Linked DNA regions of Homo sapiens: region 2 is linked to region 1. The links come from fine-mapping of genetic effects on plasma protein levels. A gene starts in region 1. The other region holds a variant in brackets. All regions are shown on one strand. Distances are between the middles of the regions.

Evidence for each region. PIP is the chance, under the fine-mapping model, that this variant and not a neighbour inherited with it causes the effect. The UK Biobank Pharma Proteomics Project read protein levels with antibody pairs (Olink). The fine-mapping took linkage between variants from a reference panel, not from the people measured, so its PIPs are less certain.
Region 2: its variant is fine-mapped to the plasma level of the UMOD protein (UK Biobank, PIP above 0.99).

What each region holds. Positions count from the first base shown.
Region 1 is chr16:20,351,007-20,353,925 of GRCh38, reverse strand. It overlaps UMOD (uromodulin), which reads left to right and starts at 1,211. Exons shown (of 11, transcript NM_003361.4): 1 at 1,211-1,237.
Region 2 is chr16:20,379,625-20,382,543 of GRCh38, reverse strand. All of the region lies in intron 3 of PDILT (protein disulfide isomerase like, testis expressed), which reads left to right. Among named protein-coding and RNA genes, the nearest start is that of PDILT, 24 kb to the left of the region's middle. The variant C/T (reference allele first, on the strand shown) is at 1,534.

The DNA.
Region 1 (2,919 bases):
CTATTGTGGGATGCGGGGAGCGGGGAGGGATAGCATTAGGAGTTATACCTAATGTAAATGACAAGTTAATGGGTGCAGCACATCAACATGGCACATGTATACATATGTAACAAACCTGCACGTTGTGCACTTGTACCCTAAAACTTAAAGTATAAAAAAAAAAAAGATCAATGCAGTGATCATGGTGATATTTTCCTGCTCAGCCCAAGTTCACACATATTTTATTTTTCTCAACATGATGACAGCCACTCTCACACTGACTTTTGGAATGTCATGTATGTTGAACTGGGTCTGAAGACATGGTTTTAACTCAGGCTCTGTCATTTTCTACCTCAGTGATTGCACAACAGCAAAGCAGAATTTTCACTACTTCCATGAATATAATCATTACTATATGACTTTACTTGCATCATCTCCTTTGGTTACTATTACTACTGTGGGAGATGGGTATTCTCATTTTATAGACAAGGAAATTGACCTCTGGACCTCAGGAAGGTTAAGAAATGAGCCCACTGCCACACAATAAACACCAGATAAAGGAGGCAGACTGACTCCAAAGTCAGTCTATTTAAGTGCAAATTTATTTCGCCTCCAAAGGGACCTCCCAGTCATCAGACCTGATTCTTTGTTGTACAGAGTGGGTCAGGTCCAGTGATGTCTGAACTACCTTCTGGTTCTGACTTTCAGCCATTCTCAGCTCCTCTCTTGCTTGTGTCTGGATTCTAAGGCTGATCTCATGAGAATGGGTGTTTCAGAAGGGTGCCCTCTCCAAGACAGGTGCACCTCCCATCTGGGGCAGTGAATATCCCTTTTGTCCTTATGCAGCCTGGCTTCAGATACTGGCTTCTGCCTGGCTCCTTGATCCCACCCTGCCCTTGTCAGTGACCAAGAAGAAGCCCAGCACCTTGGCACTGCTTTCCCAGTTAATTTCTAACTATGGAATCTCTTGCTGTTAGAAGGTGCGAAACAGTGACCTTGTATTTCCGGGCACAGGTGTGACCCCCCAATGTCAATCATTTGGGGTCTCTAGCTATTAGGAAAAAGAACAACAACAACCTCACAGCTTGGACAAGGCAAACATTATGCCAGGAGGAAAAAATATTCCACCCCCAAGAAAACAATATCAAAAAACAGAACTAGAGACTAATTGGAGGAGAGATTGCCAGCCTGGGGCAAATGTGTATATATAAGTATGAGGCACATCATGACCAGACTAACTCTACCTTTCTGGCTTCAGGTAAGGCTATCTGTAGCTGTCTTCTCCTAGCCCAGCTTCTCCCCATCCTATTTGAGGGAGGTAGGAGAGGAAATTAAGACCTTGGACACTGGGGTCAGACCTGGATTTGAGTCATTATTCTGCCAATTATTGGCTTCATGATCTTTAGTAAGTTAGTTTTCCTCTCTTTGATCCTCTCTGTCCTAGTAACAATGACTACTATTTTTTGACTTATTCCATGAATATTAGTTATGCACCTATTATGTGCCAGGTACCAGGGTTACAACAATGAACAACTTGCTATGTGCTGGGCCCTGCTCGACATATGTCATCTTAGTTAATCCCAGTGACAATATGCAGTGTTTTAGGTCGCATCTTATTAGCGGGTCATAAAATCATTCCTTTTGTGGGTTATATCCAGGGACTTCTTTTAATTAAATATAATAGAATATGTCAGTAAGCAATACAAATTTGAGGCAAGCAGTTAGCCTCTTTGTCCCCCTGTTTTCTCATCTGCAAACTAGGATAATACTTATCTCATAGGGTTGTGGTAAGAATTAAATCACTTAATGTAGTAAGGATATCAATTGTCTTATAAAATTTTATGTGTGTGTGCACATACATGCAGAAGCGACTGCACTAGATCATGACATAAAATGTTTTTCTTTCTTTCTGTCTTTTTTTTTTTGGGGGGGGGGGATGGACTCTCTGTCACCCAGGCAGGAGTGCAGTGGCACGATCTCAGCTCACTGCAACCTCTGCCTCCCAGGTTCAAGCAATCCTCCTGTCTCAGCCTCCCGAGTAGCTGGGATTACAGGCGCCCACCACCATGCCCGGCTAATTTTTGTATTTTTATTAGAGATGGGGTTTCACCATGCTGGCCAGGCTGGTCTCAAACTCCTGACCTTGTGATCCACCCCCTCAGTCTCCCAAAGTGTTGGGATTACAGGCATGAGCCACTGCACCTGGCAACATAAAATGTTTTTCTTTTAGTACATCATGGTCACGAAGATCTGGAAAACGTTGCTCTAGGACCCAATGCCTTTGAGCACATGAATGTCTTTGAACTGAGCCTGGCCCATCATAGATATTCAGTTTGTGAAAGCAACAATCTCCATTTCACAGACAAAAACGGAGACTTAGTAAACTGAAATACCCACATCACAGTGTTAGTGATCAGTAAAGCAGGGATTTGAACCTCAGGTGCAGGCTGCAGCTCCTACATACTTAACCAACATGCCACCCTATTTTGCTGCTATAAACACTGGGGTAATACTGGCATCCACCCTGGACTATTTTTCCAATTGGAAGAAATAGTAAGTGACCACTCCAGAAACATTTAAATGCATTGTGAAGGTTAATTACCTCTCAAGTTGCTCGTCTCAAGCCACTTCTTTACGATATGTGAGTTGCATGAAGGAGCAGACTGCCATGTTCATTGTTCTCCATGGTGACTAGCTCCCTGTTTGGCACAATGTAGCTACTCAATAGATGTTTGTTGAATGAATAAGTGATCCAGGCAAATTGAAAGTTTCCAGGCAGAGGATCAGTTAAAATCCAAAGCTGCCTTCAGTAAAGTGGTGAGTCCAGAACACTATTCCATCTGGCTACTTCCTGCTCCAAATGACTGAGTTCTTCAAAATGTGCAATGTGCTGAGAATTGGGGAGCCAAGACTGGGATGTTGGTGAGGTAAGGAGGGGGA
Region 2 (2,919 bases), 29 kb before region 1:
TGAGTAGTGGTGGAGTCAGCAAATGTTTTCTGCAAAGGCCCAGATTATTAATATTCCAGATCCTACAGGCCAGGCAGTCTCTGTTGTAACTACTCAGATCTGCTGATGCAATGTGAAGGCAGCCACGTGTTAACAAATGGGAATGACTGTGTTCCAATAAAGTTTTATTTATACAGTCAAACAGCAGGCCAGATTTGGACTACAGGCTATAGTATGTTGAAATCCGCTTTACATTGCGCTGTACTCTAAGCAAGAGGCAGATGTGTTCATTATTATTATCAGACTATTAGTTTTCTCATTCTAGTCCAATGCCTGGAACAATTAAGTTCTTAACAAATAGTTTTTGAGCCAGGTGCAGTGGCTCAACCTGTAATCCCAACACTCTGGGAGGCTGATATGGGAAGATCACTTGTGCCCAGAAGTTTGAGACCAGCCTGGTCAACATAACAAGACCCTGTCTCTACAAAAACCTTAAAACTTAGCCAGGTGTGGTGGCAGATACCTGTATTCTCAGCTACTTAGGAGGCTGAGGTGGGAGAATTGCTTGAACCCAGGAATTTGTGACTGCAGTGAGCCATGATTGCACCACTGCACTTCAGCCTGGGTGACAGAGTGAGATCCTGTCTCTAAATTTTAAAATAATAATAATAAAAGTTTTAGATTTTGAATACAATGGAATTGGAAGCACCCACTGCAGGTGGGCATAGGGTAAAGTACCCACCCATATTTCTGCTGGGCTTGCTTCCTCAGTATTACTTCTAACCAGAGAAAGGGCAAAGGGAATGCCAGGATGAAGCTGGGACAGGGATTGAGGATGCCTGGATTTTAGGATGAGCAGTAACCATGGGAACTTCAACGAGCCTTTTACAACCAGGCTTCCAATTTCTCTTTTTTTTTTTTTTTTTTTTTGAGATGGAGTCTCACTGTTTTGCCAGGCTGGAGTGCAGTGGTGCGATCTCGGCTCACTGCAACCTCCGCCTCCCGGGTTCAAGTGATTGTCTTGCATTAGCCTCCCGAGTAGCTGGGACTACAGGCATGTGCCACCACTCCCAGCTAATTTTTAGTATTTTTAGTAGAGATGGGGTTTCACCATGTTGGCCAGGATGGTCTCAATCTCTTGATTTCATGATCCACCTGTCTCGGCCTCCCAAAGTGCTGGGATTACAGGTGTGAGCCACCGCACCCGGCCCAATTTCTCATTTTCTAAACAGGATGAGTAAGGCCAGTTCTGCCTACTTGCCAGGGCTCCTCTGAGCTGAGAGGAGACAGTGCTTTACGCATCTTCTGCAATGTGACTTTGATGAAAACTCCTCTTAGGACACTGGTGGGATTTAGTCCTTGCAGGGTCAAAGCCCCAGTCCCATTCTCATCTAATCTCCAAGGATTGATGGCAGGAGACTTGGCCATGGCCATTGCTCTGGAAGGAGGGAGACTCAGGTTGCCTCTAGGCCTCTATTAATGATGCAGCCACAGTCTGTGCCTGGAAATATGCAGCCCAGTGCTGGTCCTAGTCAATCATTGACATTGCATTCA[C/T]ACCTCAGTTGTCACCGTGTCCTCTGGCACAGAGCCAAGCACCAAAGGAGGTCCCTGACAAGGGCAGTGCCTGATCTGCAGGCACAAAGGAATCAACAATTTGCAGAGTTCATAACTACCTCGGTCCCACAGGGGCCAGAGGGGCAAATGGAGCTCACACGTCCCCAAGAAGATGGCCCAAGATCAAGTTTCCTCAAGCCAGCTTCCCTGATGATTCATTCAGCCCATTCATTCATTCTAGAAAGATTTCTTAAGCATCTACTATGTGCCAGGCATTACAGGAGCTTACTGGGAGCTCACACTGAACAAGCTAGTGAAAAATCATTCTAATAATTTCAAGAAGGGATAGACTCAATGAAGAAAATAGGGTAGCTCGGCTGGGCACGGTGGCTCACGCCTGTAATCCCAGCACTTTGGGAGGCCAAGGCGAGTGGATCACGAAGTCAGGAGTTCAAGACCAGCTTGGCCAAGATGGTGAAACCCCATCTCTACTAAAAATACAAAAAATTAGCTGGGTGTGGTGGCGGGCACCTGTAATCTCAGCTACTCCGGAGGCTGAGACAGAGAATTGCTTGAACCCAGGAGGCAGAGGTTGCAGTGAACTGAGATCACACCACCGCACTCCAGCCTGGGCAACAGAGTGAGACTCCATCTCAAAAAAAAGAAAAAAAGAAAAAGAAAATAAAAGAAAAGAAAATAGAACAGGTCATAAGACAGAGAGTGATTGGCTAAAAGAAAAGAAGAACCAACTGAGAATTGAACAGGCAGAAGAAGGCACTGCCCTTGAAGAGCTGAGGAAAGGGCAGCCCATCAGGAGGGACAAGCCAAGGCTGAAGCCAGTGTTCTGGAAGATAACTGTAACGTTGGAGTGTGGAAAGGGCAGAGGGTGGCACAAAGTGACATCAGAGCAATGGTTCTGATGACCTGAAATTTAAATTCATTTGGCAGGTTTTGTTTTTGGATATTTTCAGATTTTGTAAATCAATTCCTTTTGGATCACTTACAATATACTTTTGCCAGACAAAAGCATATAAGAGAAACCATTTGTTTCCAAGTGTGACTTATTTTTACCTAAAGATGGCTGGAAACACTGTACAGAAACTCAGTGTTGAGGCTGATATCTCAGAGGAGGGAATTACAGCAGATGTGGGGTACCAAGGTCTGAGGGTGGCATGATGCCTCCTCCTTCTCTCTTCTCTTGAAGCCACCATATCAGCTTCACATGAATTTCCATAGGTTTGACTCATTGTGGCTTTTAACATGACCTTAACTATATCTACTAAAGTTGAACATGGCATCTGCTATGACCAGAAATTCTCCTGCTGGCTATACACCCAACAGAAGTGCATACAGTGTGCCCCAGAGACATGCACAAGAATTCATTCA